2 separate regions of the Homo sapiens genome follow, and region 1 is linked to region 2. Evidence: fine-mapped QTL for protein levels in blood plasma. Region 2 holds a variant in brackets. A gene starts in the other region. All regions are shown on their reverse strands.

Evidence for each region. PIP is the chance, under the fine-mapping model, that this variant and not a neighbour inherited with it causes the effect. The UK Biobank Pharma Proteomics Project read protein levels with antibody pairs (Olink). The fine-mapping took linkage between variants from a reference panel, not from the people measured, so its PIPs are less certain.
Region 1: CHRDL1 starts here. The variant in region 2 is fine-mapped to the plasma level of the CHRDL1 protein (UK Biobank, PIP 0.98).

What each region holds. Positions count from the first base shown.
Region 1 is chrX:110,790,620-110,801,605 of GRCh38, reverse strand. CHRDL1 (chordin like 1) reads left to right here and starts at 5,789. Exons shown (of 12, transcript NM_001143981.2): 1 at 5,789-5,862; 2 at 9,391-9,518. The coding sequence starts at 9,425.
Region 2 is chr22:39,473,050-39,484,035 of GRCh38, reverse strand. The region is part of intron 1 of MGAT3 (beta-1,4-mannosyl-glycoprotein 4-beta-N-acetylglucosaminyltransferase); the gene reads right to left. MGAT3-AS1 (MGAT3 antisense RNA 1) reads left to right here and starts at 7,214. Exons shown (of 2, transcript NR_126469.1): 1 at 7,214-7,578; 2 at 8,097-8,229. RefSeq lists enhancers at 5,089-5,590, 9,228-10,157 and a silencer at 10,323-10,680. The variant T/G (reference allele first, on the strand shown) is at 5,727.

The DNA of each region.
Region 1 (10,986 bases), not on the chromosome of region 2:
CTGTATACTATGATGAGATTATCTTGATTTTTAAAAATAAATATGTTCCTGAAATTTTCTGTAAGCCAAATCTTGCTTTTACAATGCCCTTTATTATAAATCTGGAGATGTGTTTCTTTGGGAAATGAATCACTTAAAATGCTTCTAAAAATATCTTAAAATCACTTAAAAAAGAAAATTATTTCTATAAGATAATATTCATATATAACACAAAGCACAAATAAAAAATACTTTGCGTTATTTTTGTTTACTACAATAACTGAAAGGCATAAATAGAAAATGACAGCTTAACTTATAAGAATACATTAAAACAAAGAGAATCTGCTCCTTTTAATTCTACCTTCAAGAATCTATAACCTACTCTTGCTATTTACTTATTTGGTTGTCATAAAATTCTAAGAAACAGAATTGTTTTCACTGGTGCTAAGAGACAGTATTGAAGGTTATGCTGTAAAAATAAGCAACACATGACTTTTGCTAAGATTTCATTAGCCAAAGCAAATCAAATGGCAATACTTAATTTCAAAAAGGGAAGAGGAGTAAAATCCTACCATGAGCTCAAAAGGAGGAAAGCTGGAAATATTAGATGAACCATACCAACTCTTTTTTTTTCTTTTTTTTATTTTTTTATTTTTATTATTATACTTTAAGTTCTAGGGTACATGTGCACAACATGCAGGTTTGTTACATATGTATACATGTGCCATGTTGGTGTGCTGCACCCATTAACTCATCATTTACATTAGGTATATATCCTAATGCTATTCCTCCCCCCTCCCCACACCCCACAACAGGCCCCCGTGTGTGATGTTCCCCTTCCTGTGTCCAAATGTTCTCATTGTTCAATTCCCACCTATGAGTGAGAACATACGTTGTTTGGTTTTTTGTCCTTGCTATAGTTTGCTGAGAATGATGGTTTCCAGCTTCATCCATGTCCCTACAAAGGACATGAGCTCATCATTTTTTATGGCTGCATAGTATTCCATGGTGTAAATGTGCCACATTTTCTCAACCCAGTCTATCATTGATGGACATTACTCTTTTTTCTAGCAGTTTTTAGAAATGGCTAGCAGGAAGAAAATACAACAGAGAAAAATTTCAGTAACAAACAAGAACATACACAAATAACAAAAGGGCTCATTAGAATATAGCTGAATAATCCTAAGGGGTCTTTACAGAGAATTGTCAACTTCTATATATTGAATCAAGTATCTGATTAATACAAACTCTAAGTTGGTGGCATCTTTTCTAAAAAGAGGTAAACCTATAGTACAATATACTCATCAATCTTTATGTATTCTGCCATTTTTGAAAGTTAATTTAATAACCTGAGTTTTCTAAGTCCCAGTGGGACAAGAAGCACTAAAAGGCAAAAAGTTTGTGCTATCAGAAAATTATTTTGTATATAATCATTTCATAATACCTCCACTTACATATTTATTTTTTAAATAAGTATGAGTTCTGCAACACATGGCATAGAAGATCAGCACACAACAACTACTTGCATTCATATATACTAGCAATGAGTGCATGGAAACTGAAATTAAAAATACAATAACATTTGCAATTGCTCCAAAGAAAAAGAAATATGTAGATACGAGTCTAACAAAATATGTATAGAAGTCATATGCTGAAAACTACAAAACACTGGTGAATGAAATCAAAGAAGACCTAAATAAATGGAGAGATACTGTGTTCATGGATTGGAATGCTCAACAAATTAAATTTGTCAATTGTCCCCAAATTGATCAATAGGTTTAATGCAATTTCTAGCTAAATTCCAGTAAGATATTTTGTAGACATAGACAAGTTTATTCTAAAGTTTATGTGGAAAGGTACAAGACCTAGAGTAGCTAAAACAACCCTAAAAAAGAGGAATAAAGTGGGAGGACCCACTCTACTTGAAATTCAGGCCTACCATATGTCTACAGTAATCGAGACTGCGTGGTACTGGTGGAGGCATAGACACATAGATCAATGGGATCAAATAGAGAAGCCAGAAATAGATTCACACAATATGACCAACCAATGTTTGATCAAGGTGTAAAAGCAATTCAATGAAAGAAAGATAGCTTTTTCAACAAATGATACTGGAGCAATTGGACAAAAATATATAGGCAAAATATGAACATCAACCTAAACCTTATACCTTTTATAAAAATTAACTCAAAATAGATCATAATTAAATGTAAAACTTTATAACACTTTTAAAACAAAAATATAGAAGAAAATATTCAGGATCTAGAGCTAGGTAAAGGGTTCTTAAACTTAATGCCAAAACATGACCTATATGACAGAAATTTGATACATTGGACATAAAACATTAAAAAATTTTGTTTTGTGGAAGTTCAAGGGAAGAGGATGAAAAGAAAAGCTACAGACTGGGATAAAATATTTGTGATAAGATATACAGGTGTCAAATAAACAATGAAAAGATGGTAGATATCATTAGGTTTTAGGGAAATGCAAGTTAAAACCACAATGAGATATCACTATATACCTACCAGAATGGCTAAAATAAAAAATAATGACAACAAAAAATGCTGGCAAGAATGCAGATAAACTGGATCTCTCACACATTTCTGGTGGGAATATAAAATAGTACAGTTGCTCTAAAAACAGTATGACAGTCCTTACAAAACTAAACATGCATTTACCATACAACCCAGGAACTACATTGTTGGGTATTTATCCCAGAGAAATGAACACTTACGCTTATTCAAATACCTGTAGACAAATGTTCATAGCAGTTGTAACCGAAATCTAGACTCAACCCTCCAATAGATGAATGGTTTAAACAAATTGTGATATATCCCTACCATGGAATACCACTCAGCAATGAAAAGGAACAAACTATTGATACCAGGAACAACTTGAATGGGTCTCCAGAGAATTATATCAGGGTTGGGGGAGAAGAGAGAAGAGACTATCTCAAAAGGTTGCATACCGTATGATTCCACGTAACATTCTTAAATGACAAAATTATAGAGATGTAGGACAATTTAGTTTAGTAGTTGACAGGGAGTAGGGAGAGGAGGAAGGGAAAAGATGGGTGTGACTATTAAAGTGTAATACAGGGTATCCTTGTGGTAATGGCGCTGTTTTATATTTTTACTGTGGTGGTGGTCACATGAATATACACATGCGATAAAATTGCATAGAATTATATACACAGGCAAATGAGTGCATATAAAACTGGTGAAATCAGAGTAAGATGAATGGATTGTACCAATGTCAGTGTCCTGTTGTGACATTGTACTATATTTATGAATGATGTTATCATTGGGGAAAACTAGGTGAAGGGTATTTGAGATCTTTCTGAATTATTTCTTACAACTGCATGTAAATCTACCATTATCTTAAAATAAAACTTTTTAAAAAATGAGTATGAGATTATGCTCTCATCCCTATTTAATAAACAGAGAAAATAAAGCATGAAGGTAATCATCACTTAAGTTTCTATAAGACCTGGTAGGATGTCTAGATTAGGACTCACCCAAATGGGAGTTCTCAATTCAGAAATCAAGATTGGAACTAATACAAAATACAAGGATGACTAACATTTACACTAATGAAAAACCTGTCAGAGAATTCCAGCAGCCCCATATACAGTTGCCTGCAACTGCATAAGAGATCTTAAGCAAGTTCAATAGAATCAACTCAATAGAACCAATTGAGAATAATTGCTTGCTTTAAGCCACTAGGTTTTCGGATGGTTTGTTATGCAGTAATTAGGATTCTACACCAAGCAAGGGAGTGAGTGGTTGTAGCCAAATAGATGAACTTTTAAATCCCAGTGAGTCTATTTATTTTAAATGCTAGAATTTATGTTTGTCTCAGACTATCCCTTGAAACTCATTTTCCAGAATACTCTGTAAGCATGTTGGAAGTAATGATGGGAGTTGGGTAATGCACGCACAAGAGAAATTGAACAACCAGTCCTTGCCCTTGAAGAACTCACAATCTAGTAAGACAAAACATCACTGCATTAAACGGCATGAGAACAGTTATAAGGCAACAAATCAGCAAGTTCAAACCGATATACAACAGCACAAATTGAATGCATGTGGCAGTGTATGGCTACCCAGGCAGCAGGACGGAGCTAGACATTTTGGGCCCTGAAGGCAACATTACAGAAAGGGCCCCCTTTCCTTTGTTAACAGTGAAATAAACATCACCAGCAATGCAGGGGCTAGCTGGATACTATTAACACTTCTGAAAAAGCAAAAGGAGGTAACGTTCAGGGACAATTATTCTTGTTTTAATTTTTCTTTGTTTTCTGTTCCTGATAAGTGGTTTGTTTGTTTGTTTGTTTGTTTTTTTGACAAGCCACAGTTTCTCTGAACATCAATTTCCTCATCTACAGACTGGAGATAACAACCAGAGAGTAGTGGGTTGAAAGTCAGGGAATCTGGATTGGAATCTCAAATTTGTCATTTACTAGCTGTGTGACCTTAGATACATCATCCTCTTCCCCCAATTCAGTTTCCTCTTCTGTGAAATGATGAAGTTAAGCTGAATGGTTCAGAAGTTCCCCACCAACTCTAACACTTGAGACCTCAGGTAGTTCGGTTGGTTTTGAGGGTTTAAAAAGTAATGTTGATGTATGTGAAAACACTCCGTAAGCCATAAAGTACTATACAGATGTTAGGAATATAGATATTTATCTAGTTCATCTAGAAAAAAGCTCTGCGGTTCTTCTCCAAATTTAGGGGCTTAAAATTTTGTCTGTCGAGGCAGCACTTTCCTGGACCCTAGAAGTTTCTGACAATTCTTTGCAACTATCACTTGTTGAATAAACACAAATTTGGAGTAGGCAGGCCCACCAAGGCATCAGCAGTGCTACTGTGATTTCCAGGTTGAGCTCTTGGCCCAACTTAGAAGCTTAGGGACTCATTTAAAAAAAAAATGGTGGGTATAGTGTGTGGCACCAAGTTTTCTTCAAGACACTTAACAGTTAGAACAGGCCCTTTCCATGAGGCTTGGGAGCCCAGTTTGTAAGAGAAAGTGGATTTCTAATCCCTGACCCTACACACACCCATCTCCACCCCGCCTTTAAGGACACCAAACCAAAGCTTTGTCACTCTGTTAGCCACAGTGTGGATATGGGAAACGCCGTGAAATGATAAGCAGCATGCTAGGGCGTGATTTGCGAGGAGGGTTCATTCTGTGTCCAGGGCACCAGCTCAGTACCAGACCAGGTGCACACCTCGGAAAGGCCTTGGTGCCGGAGGAGAGCGGGTGTGGGCTTCCAGGCAGGGGAGTCAGAGGGTAGTCGGTATCTTCAGGGCGTGCGCGAGTGGTGGGGAGCTCCTAGGTGCATCCAGTGCAGAGGGGGAGGAGGGACCGGAGGAGCTGTGCGGTCCCTTTAAGACCCCAACGCTCGCCTAGCCAAAGGAGTGGGGGCTGCAGTGGGGGCGCTGTGTGATGGGAAAGTAGCCGGCTGAGTCTCACACTTTCTCCCGATTTTTAAACTTTCGGGCCGGGGGAGCAGAAATAAAGCCATTGTGCCGGGGTGGAGAAAGTGTGCGTGCTTGCAGCGGCTGCGTGCTTGCGGACTTCCCGCCAGCGCCGAGCGGCCGGCTTCTCGGGCCAAGTGGGGAGCGAGCGGGAGGGCGGGCAGGTGGCCCCGGGCCGCCGCGCCCGCGCCTTGGCTCTGCCCCCGGGAGCCGAGCAAGCCGCTGCTCCCTCGTGGTGTGAGGGCGGTGATGTTTTTCCTCCCACCCACTTTTGAGTTCCCCCTCCCCCCTCGCGCGCACTCTAGCTCTCGCCACAACCTGCCAGCCCCAGACCTCGGACGAGAGCGCCCCGGGGAGCTCGGAGCGCGTGCACGCGTGGCAGACGGAGAAGGCCAGTGCCCAGGTTAGTGAGCAGTGCCCGGCGCCCGCTTCCCTCACCTCCTTTTCCAGCCTTTGCACAGGTGGGTTGCCTTCTCTTGGCCGGAGCCGTCCCTGGAAGTTTCCCCAGGGTGCCCCAAATTCCCCTGCCACCCCAACCTGTTCTGTGCTCCAGCAGTTAGCAACCTGGATGGAGGTGGGGCCCAAGGCTTCTGACCAAAGCAAGTTGGGGGTCTCTGAATTCGAACTCACAGCTCGTCCCTCCCCACTCGGCCTGCATTTCTTTATGCTCTGGCGCTTTGAGAGGTCACTTAGGTACTCCACCCTGAGCTACCCAAGGGACTCTGCAGTCCCCTTAATCACTGCCTGTATTCCTGAGCCTGTTTTCTCATTTTGCTGATGAATACATGGTAAAGTTAATGTAGCAGGGTAGATGGGCGAAAGGCTCCCTATCCTATCCTCTGGCCATCTGCCTCATTTTTTGTCCCTGACTACGGGGGTCAGAATTTGAGACACTAGGCTCTGGAAGCAACGTGGTATATTGCCAGAACATAGGGCCCGGAAAGCCTGCTTTCCAGTCCCTCCCAGCCCTGCCACTAAAGTTATTTGAGTTCTCTGGGTCCCCCCAGTGCCCATTTTGAAGGTGGAGTTGTGTGGAATGAAATGAAATGATAGAAAGGTGTTTTGCAAGCCAAATGCGAGGCATTGTTTGTCAGTCATAAGCAGCAATGAAAGCATTTCCTCCAACAAGAGATACCCTGGGTTAAAACTGCCATTTTCAGTGGCAACACACCACCAGTTAACTGAACTTTTCTTGCTGGGTGGTAGAGTGGGGAGAGGATTTCAGCTGATGGACAAGGGCCTGGGACTCCAGTGTCTTTCTTATTGTTTGTCGGAAAGAAAATTGCTACCCTAGGGGCTGTCCCACAGATGATAGTCAATGTGAGATTACAAGGTCAGTCAAGCCTCTCAGGAGGATTAAAGAGACACTGTGGGGCGTGAAGAACTGGCTGACATGTGTTCATCCCTTAGCCTTCCTGTGGGGATGTCTCTTTGCTTCTGTTCTACCCAGGAGACCTGTTCTGAAAGTGGGCTCCTGACACTTGATGGCCCAGATTGCCTTGCAGTCACAGCTGGGCAAGGAGCAGTTGGTCCCTTTGCTTAACGCAGATGAACAATGTGAATGCTTGTTTCATGGAAGCACCTTAATAAATACCTTTCTTTTGGTACTTGATACATTTCTCTTTCTCTTGTAAAACACAGGAACTCTCCCATCCCACCTCCACTACCTGTGTTAGTTGCAGGGTTTTGTTTTTTTGTTGTTGTTGTTGCTTTCTTGTTGGGTCCTGGATCCCCTGAAGCATGTCAATGGCTACATGTCTAAGTAACCTGTAAAAGAGCCAGTGCAAGTTCAATGGCACAACAGCCTGTGTGAAGCAGACAGAGAGTTAATGCAGAAATAACTCCAGTTAACTGGGTCAAAGTATAATTTGAAAAATTAAGGACAGTTTGGCTCTTTGCAAGAATAAGAGTCGGCTAAGTTCGCTGAGCAATGCTTGCTAGTGTTTACTGCTGCAGTCCCAACACATGTTTTGAACCACCCCCTTCCCTAAAAGAAAAAGCTGAAGAGATAAAGAGAAATTGAACAGTGAGGAGATCTGGGGAGGGAACTCTTCTTGGTTCATATTTCTGCACAGAATACAAAGGCAGGACTTCAGGATCTTGTAAATCAAAAGTGAATATTTATAAAGCGATTCATTTTCTGATGTTCTCCATCACAGCCTGGGAGGCCACACAGATGACAGGAACGCCAAAGGAGATTAATTGCTCTCTAGTTACCAACTTTTTTATTTGCTCATAATATTAGTTGGGACCTAAGAAAGGCAAAAAAATCTATGAGCTGTTTTCTTGCCAACTTGAGTTATGAAGCAATGCTACAGTTCACCGAATCGCCCAACCATTATACAAGAAAAGCAGCCCTGTTGATTCTCGCATGGGGAGACCCTAAAACCATGGTTTCAGAAACACCCGTTGAAATCCATATATGAATGTGATAAATTGGATTTCAGTGGTTAAAAATCTTTCTCTTTTGGAGGCTTGGGGAATAAACTTATTAGAATAGGCTCAGGAAGAACCTCACTGAGGTGGGTAGCTGTGTTAAATTGTTAATGAAAATGATTTGTTTCGAATAAACGTGGTAGCCCTCAAGGGACAGTAACATTCTGAGTGATTGTAAGTGGGCCACAAACTCACAGAGGGGACCAAGACATCAGAACTCAGGTCTTTAGATGGGTAGGAACATGTCCTGAGAGAATTTGGTTCTTTAAGGAGCAGGGAGGAGGTAAAGAAGGAAGGCAGACGGTGCTGCAAATCTTGTTTGATAGCACAGATTACTCTATCATCAGTTCTTCCTTGGTTATGCATTCATAATTGAAACAGTGGATTTTGAATGACCCAGGCAACTTCATAGCATTTAAGTAGGAGCTGTAGCATCTACTTCAGAGCCCAAAGATATTCAACTCTCCAAAATGATCGTTTTGCATTCCTTCAAGTTCTTTATGTGCAATATTTAGGTTGGACTTTCTGGAAAGATCAATGAGTTCATTTCCCATTCAGATTGAATCTGGTGTTTTTAGAACATTTCAATATTTTCAGATCACCCATTGGAGGAATTTTGCAAACTCTAACATCTGTGGAAATGATCCGTGACTAGATGTGAGCTACAGCAAACTTTCTGTGTTCCAAGGTTCAAAAGGTTTAAGATTTCTACCCCTTATACTGGGAATGCCAATCTCATGTTTTGAAGAACTGTAGTTGTTTTAATGGTCTTTTGCATGGTGGTGCAAGGTGAACAAATTATCTATTTAATTTGCCCAATTTCCCCTAAAAATGGCCCATTTAAAATTTCCATTTTACAATGGACTTCTTGGGGGAGGAATATGTTGGAACCATTTTAAGCAGTAAAACTTTTCAGGTGTTTAATTGCATCCATTTGCTAATTACATCTATCTTTTGCAATATTAGTTGCCAAACCAAAGATCCTTGTAGATCTCATAGAGGACACAGGAGAAACTGATCAATTTGTACTTCATTCCAAAAGGATTAAAAGTAGTCTTGAAGCTAAGATTAGTTAACTTTCATTTCAGAAATTGCTTGGTCTCATGCTTGTTACTTTTACCTTGTTTGCTAAAATAACCGTTTTTGCAAGCTAAAGTTTCCCTTTTCTCCCAAAAAAATCTCTTGAGAAATCAACTTTAATTCCCTTAGAAAGGAAGATTTCAAAATTTATTTTCATTTTCCTATAACTTGCCTGTAAGGACTTAGCCTCAGCTTTGGATAGGAATGCACCCTCATTCACTTGAATTTTCACCCACAAGCCTTGCAAGACAGGAGAGGCAAGTCCTTTATCTTGTGCAGGCAGACAATACTTACACTTATGTAAATTCTAGGACATTTTTTTTTTATTCTAGCAGGTTAGAAGCCTGAGCATCAGTGACCTCTATCATTTCCAGAAGATCTGTGTTAAGTCTTTTTTCTGCTTTCTTCCCAACAGCTTGAAGGTTCTGTCACCTTTTGCAGTGGTCCAAATGAGAAAAAAGTGGAAAATGGGAGGCATGAAATACATCTTTTCGTTGTTGTTCTTTCTTTTGCTAGAAGGAGGCAAAACAGAGCAAGTAAAACGTAAGTGTCTTGCATTTGGAAAATAATACACTTTTTATAATTTCTTTGAAAATGTGGCTATAATCTGTAGCAATTATGATTTAGCCCAAATGTGGCCGTGCCATTATTCTAAGAGAAGAAAGTGAATGTTACTGGTTTATGCATGAATTGATAAAAGAATGAGAGCTTTGAATCAGGCCAACTAAATTTGGGGCTGTTTTTCTGATTATCATGTAGTCTTTGTCTCATAGAACATATGACACATTAGCTTATTTTCTCTTCCCTGTTCTAAACTATACAAATCTCATTACATTTTACGTAACTCTAGAAATATCTGACAGATGAGCTGGAATTTTCCCAAATTTCAGACTCTTCAGCAAAGGCTTTCAGTTTATGAAAAATAATGACACAGAAAAGAAAAAAAAAGAAAAAGAAAAGCAGGCTCTGCCTATTCCCTTATGCCGAAAAACGAGGAAGGACGAAACCTTCCTATGAACTGGGCTCAGATGAAAAATGTTTTGAGGAAATTGAGATTCCAGGGACCGTTAGCAAATTGGATGCCATTTATTGAAAAGAACATCCCCGCAAAGCCAGGGAATATTTCTAGAAAGTCAGCGATCCGTGTAATGGGCTAACACATTGGAGAAAGCAGAGAGTGGCAGGAAGTGGGGGCGGGGGGGATAATTAACCCTCCTTGCTGCCACGTTTAGGAGATTTATGAGTAACGGTCGACATATCCGTTCTTGCTGCCTTTGCACAATGTGGGTCTTACCTTCTTTGGGCCACTTGCAGCCATCTCTGAGGTAGATGCTTGCTCTAAATTTGAAGGAAAAGCCTAAGCTCTAGTTCCCCTTTTTGACAGCATCAAAAAAAGCACAAAATGGAATTGGTCCAAGAGGGGCATTCTCTGCTTCACTGAACTTATTCATGAGAAGGAGCTGTGAAAATATTCTTGGTAGGAACTGAAGCAGCATCTGAAGCCCTTCACTTAAACCTTTATCTCTTTTATCACATAAGTTAAATAGATCAGGCAGAAGGCTTGCTGACAAGGAGAACAGTGCCAAGCCTATTCCATCCTTAAGTGTGTTTCTGTCCCACTACAATTTTCATAGTAAGTGTAGTCTTCTTCCTGGGAGAAACAGTGTTTAATAGTGTTTTTGATTATGCTTTTGAGCATGAGCGGTGTATGGTGATATCTAGTATGATTGGGACACAAAAGGAAGTTTAGTGGGGCATGATCTCAGCAAGGAAGCTTGGATCAGCCTCTACTCTTGTATCCCTCAAATTGCTTCCTTCTTCTTCCACTTGAATATAGTTCATCTCAGAATCCTCCTCTTCCAGAAGCCTTCCTTGATTTAAGTGGATGTGACAGAAGCATCCATGCATTCTCAGCTCAGCTCACAATTAGCTGGGCTTAGGGATGAAATATTACTCAATAAGTACAATGTACATTATTTGGGTGATGGTTACACTTAAAGTCCACACTTTA
Region 2 (10,986 bases):
TGACCTCAGCTTGCGAGGAGTCCTGAGCAGGCTGGTAAGAAGCAGTGGAGCTGCTGATCCCGACAATCAGGGCAGCGTTTGCCCCATTCGAGCTCAGATATCCCTCCTCCAGTAAACGCCTGCCCCCCTGGAGCTGTCCACACGGAGTGGGCACAGCTGACTGCGGGCAGGTAGAACAATCTGGGGTAGGGGCCTGACCTCTGCTAAATGTCCCAGGGCAGAGCTGGGGCTGTTCGCCACTGGAGTTTGGAAGGAGGGGCTGCTCCTTGATAACATTTTGAAGTGGGTCTTCTGCACTTCATTCTCCATTTTGGATTCCAGCCCTTGTCTGGCAAAGTGAGACCAGTTGGGCTGGACCAGCTGGGTGAGCAAAAGGGGCTAGGAGTGCTGTGGCCAGGACCAGACACAAGGCAATACTGCAGCCGGGGTTAGCATGGCGGAAGCTTCCAGAGCAACCTACTCTTGGGGTTTCAGGACTTGGAAAGGCAGCCTGGATCCTTCTGGTGGGCTATTTTTCTTTTCTTTTTTTTTTTAATTTTTTAATTTTTTTGAGACGGAGTTTTGCTCTTGTTGCCCAGGCTGGAGTGCAATGGTGCGATCTCAGCTCACCACAACCTCTGCCTCAAGCAATTCTCCCGCCTTAGCCTCCTGAGTAGCTGGGACTACAGACATGCACCACTACACCGGCTAATTTTGTATCTTTAGTAGAGGTGGGGTTTCACCATGTTGGTCAGGCTCGTCTCGAACTCCTGACCTCAGGTGATCTGCCCGCCTTGGCCTCCCAGAGTGCTGGGATTACAGGTGTGGGCCACTGTGCCTAGCCTTAGTGGGCTATTTTTCTGTACTTGGGACCTGCCTCTGAGGGGGACACTCTAAGTTACACAACTGGTGTAAGCTATGTGGCAGGCATGGCCTGGGGCTGCCATTCAGACTCTAAATCCCCTGGCAGCATGAACAAAGGCTTTAGCAAAGCAAGGTAAGAGGAACTCAGAGAGGCAAGGAAACAGCCTGCTTGGCGTAAAGGGCCTCCGTGGACCTGCTGAGGTCAGATTGACCCAGCTGCCCCTTGGCTGGCTTTCAGGATCTAGTTACTCATAGCCAGCTGTGCCCTTCTGAGCACGGACTCACCAGTGCTTGGGAGCTCCCCTCTCAGTCACTGGAGCCTTCAGGACAGGGCCCCTTAATAAGGCCTCAGTCTGGGTTGCTGCTGAGAATCAAGGATCTGGGCATGTTTCCCTCATCACTCAGGCTGCTAGGAGGCTCAGAAGCACACAGTGGTCAGCCAGAGCATGTCAACAGCACCTCACAGACAGCATTTTCTTGGACTCCTTCACTTGCAGCTGCCCGCATAGTTTCAATCCTTTTCAGCTCAATTCCTTTTTGTCTTTTCATTTTTTTATTGAGACAGCATATAAATAAAATGGAATAAATAAGCACTGGCACTCAGGGTCTCATTTAAATCTCACAGGCACTCTGGTAGGTTATTTAAACTGCCCTGTTTTAACAGATGGAGAAAACGAGACTCAGAAAGATGGCAAGACTTTCCCCAAAGGACATCATTAAGGAGGTGGCTGAGTCAGGACTTGAACGTAAGTTCTGGTTCTCAAGCCAGTGCCTCTCTCCCTCATGACAGCTGAGACCACCAGATCCCTCTGTAGTGCAGGTGGCCCAGCTGTGGGCTAAAGCCATGGAACCAAACTGGGCCCCAGTTGGTGGCATTTCAGCTTCCATTACAAAGCTTCATCAAAGCTGGGCACAGTGGCTCATGCCTCTGGAATCTCTGCACTTTGGGAGGCCAAGGTGGGCAGATTGCTTGAGTCCGGGAGTTCAAGACCAGCTTGGGCAACATGGCTAAACCCCGTCTCTACAAAAAAAAAAAAAAAAAAAATTAGCAGTGCCTACTTTCTAGCAGTGCCAGGCATGCAGAACTACTATGTGCCTGTAGTTCTAGCTACTTGGGAAGCTGAGGTGGGAAGACTGCTTGAGCCCTGCAGGTCAAGGCTGCAGTGAGCTGAGAGATCGCAATTCTGCACTCCAGCCTGGGCAGGGGAGTGAGACTCTTATCTCAAAAGCAAAAATAACAAAGCATTGACAAACCATCAGGTGTAACAGTAAAACTATCACTGAGGCTGACATGCCAGACACTGTCCTAAGCTTGTTACACACGTGACTGTACTGAATCCTCCCAACACGAAGCAGGTACCCTTGTATAAGGAAACCGAGGCCAGGGAGATGATGTCGCTTGCACAGCATTGCACAATAGAAGGATCATACTGGATCCTATAGGGTCAATCACGGGGTTGTATCCAGTGGTAAAGCTGTCCTGAGCCCCTTCCAGCTGCCAAGTTCAACCCAAGTAGAGTGACAGAGCCCCTGAGGAGTCCACCTGTGACCAGTGAAGACAACCCAGTGGATGGTGCAGCCCTGGGGCATTTGATCCATACAACATGCCACAGGGTGCTCACCCAACCCACGTCACTCATTCACTCAGCAACGATTTTGCCAGAGCCCCGTGTGCCAGGCACCTCGGTGGGTACTGGGAACATGGGGAGACAGGACGGACCAAAATCCCTGCCCTCAGGGAACCTGCTCAGCACCCAACAGGGTAGGGAGCCTGCGTAAACTACAAACACACTAGTCAGCTCAGAAAACTGCGCGCCCAAAGAGGCTGTGCTCTGGAGAAAGACAAAGCGGGTAACGGGCAGGAGCGAGTGCGTCATTATGTCCAGTGATGAATGGAGTGGGCAGGGCAGGCTCACCGAGGAGGCGACGTGAGCAGACTCCACGCAGGAGAGGGCGCCAGGGAAGAATGTTCCAGGCAGAAGGCACAACCAGTGCCCTGGCAGGAGTGTATGTGCGCCAGTGAAGAACAGCAAGGCGGGTGGGACGGAGCAAGTGAGGGGACATGGGGGGCAGGGAACAAACCCAGATCACAGGGCCTGGAGGCATGGTTCGAAGTGTGGCTTTCACTGGAGGATTCAGAGAAGGGAGGCCATGGCCTGACCTTGGTGTGAATGGCTCACTTTGGCTGCTCTGCTGAGAATGAATGGGCACTTCAAGGGCAGGGCAGGGGAAGCCAGGAGGCCACACTGAACTGCCCAGGTGAGTCAGGGTGGCTTCCACCAGGTTGTAGGGTGTAGAGTGTGCTCAGATTCTGCTGGATTTGCTGAAGAGCTGGATGTGAGCAAGGCAGCACACTGGGTGGCCCCAGGCACTGGAAGAATGGACCAGCCCTTGACTGGGGTGGAGGAGGCTGGCCCTATCTGGCAGACCTGGGGCTTGCAGCCAGCATCTGTCTCTGCAGGGCCTAGCCCTAACCACTACTTCTCCTCCTGCAGACACCAACAGTGAGGCTGGGCGTGAAGGACATGGCCAAGGTCAAACACTGGCTAGCAGCAGGTCCTGGGCTAACCTTTGTCTCTAGATCCAAACCTCAGGTCCTCTCTGCAGCATGCTGTCTAGAAGCTTCACCTGAGGGATGGGCGGGGTGGGATATGCTTTGTCTGTGGTCCCCCTGTGGCCTCAAAGCACTGTGGGGGACATCGTCCAGCCCACTGTCCCACTCCCACCTACTTCCCTGGATGTACGTGGCTTGAGGTCCTCCAGCAGCTCAGGAAGCCAGGAGGGTCACTGTGGTTAGGACCTACCTGGGGAATAAGGTTAACTGAGCGAGGGCTTAGGGCCTTCCCTGGGCTGGGCGCCCTCTGTGACCCAGGCAGGCAGCTCTCTGAGGACAAAACCCCTCTCCAGCTCCTTCCCACCACCAAGGCTAATCTCTGTTAGCACAAATGCCATACTCTGGCTCTTACTCAGTTCGTTAAAATTCACCTAGTATTTCTCAGATGCCTGCTCTGTGCCAAGATAGCCTCCCTGGAGCCAAAGCACCTGCCTCTGCCCCAAGCCAGAGCCCATCCCGAACTCTCCCAACCTCCCCCAGCTCCTCATCATCATCAATGTTCCTATAGTCACTATGAACAGAGCAGGTCACCTGACCTCTCTCAGCCTCAACTCCTCCATGTATAAAATGGGTATCATTATCTCTGCCCTGCTTATTTCAAGTAAGAATCAGAGAGAACTATGCACGGCCCCAGCCCCAGTCAACACTAGGCTCATTTTCCCCTAGATGTCTGTCTTCCCAGCTGGCATATAAGCTCCCTAGAGCAGGGAATGTACACAGCAGGTGCTCAATGAGATCACCCCGCACTGCCCTGGGCCTCCACAATGCCCTCACCATCACTTCCATGTGCTCGGACTCCCCAGTTCAAATCCCAGCTCTGCCACTCCTATCTGTGTGGCCTTGTGCAGGTTAAGCACTTTTCTGTACCTCTGTTTTCCCATCGATGAGATGCCTAGCACACAGTAAGCACTCAATGATAAGTGCTAGCTCTTCTATTATTATTCCCCAGCCTGGCAGAGAAGAGAAAGAGTGAGCCTTTGGGTGGGGACACACCAGAAGCAGAGGCTTGGAGGTGAGTCCCTGGCAGGGCCTAAGCCTAGGTGGGTGCTGTCCTATCTCAGGGCAACAGGGAGCAAAACCTAAACCTGCTGTGGGGAGGGGCCAGGGGCTGGGAAGCCACGCCTCCTGAGACTCCAAGAAAAGGGGGGCTTGAGGCTCCACCCCCACCCCGCTGCCAGACACCCCGTAAGTTGTGCCCAGCCCCAGGGGCCTGTGACTTTTTAAATTTTTTTAGACAGGGTTTTGTCTTTCTTTGTTACCCAGGCAGGCTGGAGTACAGTGGGGTGGTCAAGGTTCACTGCAGCCACAAACTCCTGGGTTCAAGTGATCCTCCCACCTCAGCCTCCTAAGTAGCTGGGACTACAGGTGTGTGCCACCACTCGGCTGATTTTTTAAACATTTTTTTGTAGAGAGGAGGTCTCCCTACATTGCCAAGCTGGTCTCGACCTCCTGGGCTCAAGTGATACCTCGGCCCCCCAGTGTTGGGATTGCAAGCGTGGGCCACCGCCTCTGGCCGGTCCTGGGTCTGTTGGGATAGGTGGTAGAGCATGGGCCAGGTGCTTCCTGGCAGCCAGGTGATCCTGGAAGAGGGAGGCTGAGGCTGACCCAGGATGGCAGCAGGCAGGCCTCAGGCAGTGGCCATGGCCTGGAGGGTCTGAGCTGGACAGATTTCCTTCTTTCCCTCCCTCTTCCCACTTCTTGTGCCATTTTTCTCTAGCTCTGCTTGGAAGCCTGACGGGCTGTGAGGGAGGGAAGCTGATGAGCCCAAACTCCATGACCCAGCCATGACCTCATAGTCAGGACTCAGGTGGAGCCCAGCCAGGGGCTTCTGGCCAGGGAGAAGGGAGGTGCTCTCTGGAGGCCACTGGCTGTGATGGTGGGAGCTGGCCAGGCAGGTAGCAGCCTCCCAGGTGCAGACTCACACTGACAGCTGTCGCTTGGTGAAGGGCGGCTCCTGTGGAGCTCTCCGTGGTCCTGAGCTTGCCCGTGCTGGCCAGAGTCCTAGCTCAGTCCCCAGGGTGCCCTTGGCTGGCCTCACCCTGGCCCCTGCCACCCACCTCCGTGGTTCAGACGGCTCATGTCTTAACAGCCGGTTCCCCTGTCCACCACCCTCTGGCCCCTTCTCCGCCTGCCCCTCAACACCTGATGTCTGGCGTCTTCAGCTGGGGGACAGCCACTGGGCACTCCTCCAACTGGGAGAAGGGGCCAGCTGTCACATGTCCAGCAGTAAAGCAGGCCCAACACCCAGTGGGCACTCAGGGCATCCCTG[T/G]AATGTCCATGAGGGGCATTTTGGAGGATGCCAGAAACAACCTCAGTCTCTACTTCTGGGCAGGAAGTAGCCCATCCACTGCCCCCAGCCCTGGTACACCTTGGGGTGGACCCGCACTACCTCTCCAGGAGTTAGTTCAACTGTACGAAAGGGCTTCGCGCTGAAGCCCGTCTCCCTGTGCTCACCTTCCACCCGGCCTGGTCCTGCCCCATGTGACCTAAGGGCTCTGCCACCTCCAAAAAGAAGGCAGGAGGCACATCTTTGCAGCAATCCCTGCCATGTACAGCAGCTCCTGGGGCACAAGGTAGGCCAGTGGCCACAATGGCCAGATCCGAACACTGCTTGTGGCCTTGGCAAGTCACTCTGCCTCCCCGTGCCTCAGTTTCCCCCTCCACGATACGGAGGTATAACCGTTTCTGTCTCACAGGGTTGTTGTGAGAGTTGAGTGAGTTAATCCCCGCAAAAAGCTAGGGACCATGCCTAAGCACACAACAGATGCTCAGGACACGCCGGCTCCACTGTTACTGGAAGTCTGGAGGATTTGGTTTGAATCCCAGTGCCATGACTTACTTGCTGTGTGCCCTTTGGCAAGTTACTTAGCTTCTCTGGTCCTCAGTCTTCTCCGATCTAAAAGAAAGATGTCACCCTCTGTTTTGCAGTCCTGTGGGAGACCTGGCTGAGCCACGGTGTCAAAGCATTCTGCATGGAGCCTGGCCATTGGCAGAGGTTCTATAAATGCATGGTTTTTTTTTTTTTTCTTTCCTTCCATTTGGGTTTCCCGCTGGACGACCAAATACAGATGACCCCCTGAATATGCCAGGCCTTGCTCCTGACCGGCTTTATTTCCTTTAAGAAAGGTAACAAAGACACCTTTGTTAAGGTACAAAAGGAGGTGGGCCAATTGCGGGGCTGCTTCACCCTGACTGGCACCCTCAGCCTGTAGGGCCTTTCTCAGTAACTCACCAGGCATTCAGGACCTAGGCCAGAATCTGCGGAATCCGGCCCAGCCGAGGCCTGCAGACTCCTCTCCTGGGTCCAGAGGGCCTGCAAGTAAGAATTTGGTCCAAGGCTTCACCCCAGGCCAGTGCCTCTGCATGTCCACTCCCACGGGCCGCCCATTCCAATCCCTTTGGGCTGCTAGAAGTTCTTCCTTCTGTTGACCTTCATCAGTTTCCCTGGAGCTTCTGCTACTGGTTCCTTCCCTGGGGTATGGCAGAGGGAGTCGGCATCTCAGGAGTCAGAAGACAGTGAGCACCTCCCCGGACTCTGAAACTAAATGCAGCTTGAGGTTTCAGGATCCCACATGGGGAGACAGGTAGAGGCGGTGGCTGCAGAACATGGCCGATCCTGGAGTCCCGGCGAGACTGAAGAAACAACTGCTGCTCTGCTGTCCTCCCCTCTCATCATCTGACTCACTCCTTTGACTGACAACCATCCACAGGGACGCCTACACAAAGTGGTCACTCTGCAGTCGACGTATCATCCCAGCTACTGGTGGTCATCGGGGACGCAGATATGTGTGTCTCCATTTTGCAGATGAGGACATGGAGGCCTCAAGAGGTTAAGTGACTTGCTCAGCCACACACAGCTGATGGGAATGAAACAGACGGAAACGGAGACTCCCCAAGCTGACAGGCGGACTACAGATCTGGGGGTTCTGCTCCAGGCTCAACACAAGTGGCCTGGGCGAGGGAGGGCCTGGTAGACCATGACACCCAGCATCGAGGAATTCTGCTTCCCCAGCAGGCTCAGAAGGAAGAAGTCTGCTTCAGGGGCCAGGCCTGGTCAAAGACTCCATCTTCCCTGGATGGCCAGAGTCAAATCCTTGCAAATCCCGTTCACCATGGAGCAGGTGAGACAGCTTCTGCTGTGCCCACCCATGGATGAAGAAACTAGGCCAACAGAGGAGAGACAGAGCTACAAGGGGAGCAGTTCTTAGATTAGGCAGGCAGGGTTCAGGAAAGACAGGGTGCCCAGGCCACCAGAATACCCACGAGAGTCTGGGCCTCATGGAGTCAGCCCCACTCTCTGCTGGCTCAGCTCCAGGGTGGAGGCCTTGCCAAAGGCTCAGCCCAAGACCCATCCCAAGAGCCCTTTCCATGGCAACCCCACCCCTCCCCCACCTCCAGTCCCTGTGCACCACTCTCTCCCCTCCAAACCCATCCCCATCAGCTGATCCCAGCTCCCTGCAGGCTGCCTGAGGACTTTCCCACGGAGTGGCCGGCAAGTGCCTGGGAAAGTTGGTTCCCAAAGCTGGGATCTACCCCTGCTAGGACTCCACCCCTCCTGCACTGGTCACTGGTCCATTCAGGACATCAGCTCCTCATCCCCAGAGGCTCATTCCATAATGTTTTTGTTTTTGTTTTTTAGAGACGAGACCTATGTTACCCAGGCTGTATGTGAATTCCTGGACTCAAGCAATCCTCCCATCTCAGCCTCGTGAGTAGTTGGGACAAGTCTCACACCACCATACCCAGCTTAATTTAATTTGAATTTTAATAGCTGCATGCTCTAGTGGTTCCTACGTTAGACTGTGCAGTTTAGACTGAACGGAGAGGGCAGGAGGCAGGGAGTCAACCGGGTCCATCGTGCCAGCACCGCTGGAGAGATGGGGCTGCACTGAGGGAGGACCCTCATGGGGACAGTCACAGAGCTGGAGCAAGGGAGCATCCCAGGGCGCCAAGCCTGAGAGACGGCCCGTGATGAAGGGGAGGGCCAGGGGCGGGGCAGTGGTGAGCTGATGCCAAGGTCTTGGCTGAGAGAGGCTCATAGAGCATTGGTTAACTACAGGAGGGAGGGATGCAGCTCTGGGGGGCTGCCTGACACCAGGGTGCAGGGGCATTAGGCAGGTGATTGGCAGAAGGAGACCTCGGGAGGGGAGGTGGGCTAAAGGTGGGCCTCAGGGCCCGATACACAGATGTACAGACACATCCCATGGACTGGTCCCATGGGCACTGAGGACAGCTCTTTCCCAGCCAGGTCCCTGGAACTCCCCTCCAGGTGCCCCAGGACCTGAGAGAGAGGTGGAGTGAAGGGGGAGAGAAAACAAAGCCCAGGGACTCGCCCCCAAAAAACACAATCAAGAAGATGCTCCCAGCTTTTCAATTTCAGACACTGAGCTCCTCGCAAGATTTTGTTGGAAGGAAAGCTTCTACAGTTAAAAAAAAAAAAAAAAAAAAAAGCCTGGCAAGCCCTGCTGTGAATTCATCCCTCACTCCACACCAGCAGGGAGATGGAGGCCCTGAGGAGGGGGTGATTGGTGAAGGCCGCACCACAAGCAGAACCCAGGCCTCTCTGACTCCAGGAAGGCAGGGGCGCTGGGCTGGGGCTTTTCCATCTCGGATCCTCAGTCCCCAGTCCAGGCAGAGAGGGACCTTATCAGGGAGCAGAGGGCGGATGTCCCAGCCGGGGCTAGTGGTGCATATGCACATTTCAGGAGGGCCCGAGGGCTCTGACTGCCTCTTACACACAAAGCCTGGAATGGAGAGATGTAAACTTGGCCTGGGGGAACAGGCCAGGCCAGAAGTGAGCAGTGGCTCCTGCCCGAAGCACCCAGAGCAAATATTCAGTGAATGTTTGGGATTAGCCAGAGGAATGAGTACTGCTGGTGGCATTTCAGGCACAGGGCTCTTTATCTCTCAGGGAGAGGAAAAGGGTCCCCTCTGCAGGGCCACACATGACCACAGACCTGCTGTGTGCAGAGCCAGGAGGCAGTGGGAGCCCGTGAGGGCTGGGCCAGTGTGCAGGGAAGGTGCTTGGGGCTGTGAGAGGGTTGGGGGTGATGTGAAGACTGTAGCACTACTGGCCTCGCTTCATTCCACCCCCACAGGCACACAGGGCCTCAAACTCGCAGCTGGCAAGTGACAGCAGCAGAGTCCACACCCACCTGCGGCCTTGGGGCTTCTCAGAGTTTCAGGGGCAAAGTCCAGGCTGCTGCCTTCAGCCTTGCCCAAGGCAAGGGTCCCTCTCACCCCCACTGCCATCAGGACCCCATGGGCCTGCCATTTTCAGGTCACAGGGCTCTCCAGCTCTGGTAGATGATCGGATTCGCTGCCCAGGAAAGCTGCATCTGCCCATCCTGCCAACCTCCTAAGCCCCTCACCAGCCTGAAACCATGTGAGCACCCCGGTGGCACACTGCAAGGCCAGGCTGAAATTATGTTTCCCAGAGCCCAGAGTTCCCTGCAAGGCCAAGGGTACCCAGGGCAGCCCTTCCCACCACTACCCAACTCCAACAGGAACGGGTCACCCTGGACAGTGCGCCGTGTCTGGGTCTCCTGCAGCTTAAAGGAGGCTCAAGGTCCAAAAAGTCAGGAAAACTCCAAGGTGAGGCCCAGACTCCAGGAGGCTCCGGAGGCCCTGGATCCTGACCCACACTGCAGAACCTTGCCCTGATCTACCCTGGAGCTGGCACTCCACATCCATCTGCCCCCTGCCCACACACCTCCATCCAGGCTGCCCTCCTCATCCATCCCCCCTCCTCCCCTTAACTTCCATCCCCCCACCCCCATTATTTTCCCCTAGCCCCGATCACCCGGAACTTGGAGACAAGCAAGCGAGGGGTCCCATGCCACCTGCACCACCTCCTTGGGGAGTTTGTTTGCTGCTGTCTGCCTGATCCTGGCCTCCAGCTAGCCTGGCCTGGCCACAGGCCCAGGGATCCCCAAGCCCCTGTGTCCACAGCTTCCCCTTGCCAGCCTGTAATCATGTAGGGGGTGCTATAGTCTGAAAAATGTGTCCCCCAACGTTCACATGTAGGAAATTTAATCCCCAGTGCAGTGGTGTTGAGGTGTGGACTTTAAGAGGTGATTAGGCCGTGAGGGCTCCACCCTCATGGAGGAATTTATGCTGCTATTGTAGGAGTGGGTTAGTTATTGTTCCTGATAACAGCATGGGCTCAAAGTGGGTTAGTTATCGTGTTCCTGATAACTGCATGCGGTCAGCCCTGCCCGTCTCCATGTGTGGATACTTCTGCCCTTCTGCCATGGGATGACGCAGCATGAGGGCCCTCGCCATATGCTAGCTCCTCGACCCTGGACTTCCCAGCCTCCAGATCCGTGAGAAAGTTCTGCTGTTTACAGACCACCCAGTCTCAGGTATTCTGTGGTAGCAGCACACACAGGACTAAGGAGGGGAATGAGAGGACAGCACATCTGAGGCCTCCCCGAGAGCCGCCCTCTGACGGGGCTGTGCTCAGTATCTTAGCTGTTCTCTAATCTCGTGTGGACATCCGCCTCCCACTGCTATTTCACAGAGGAGAA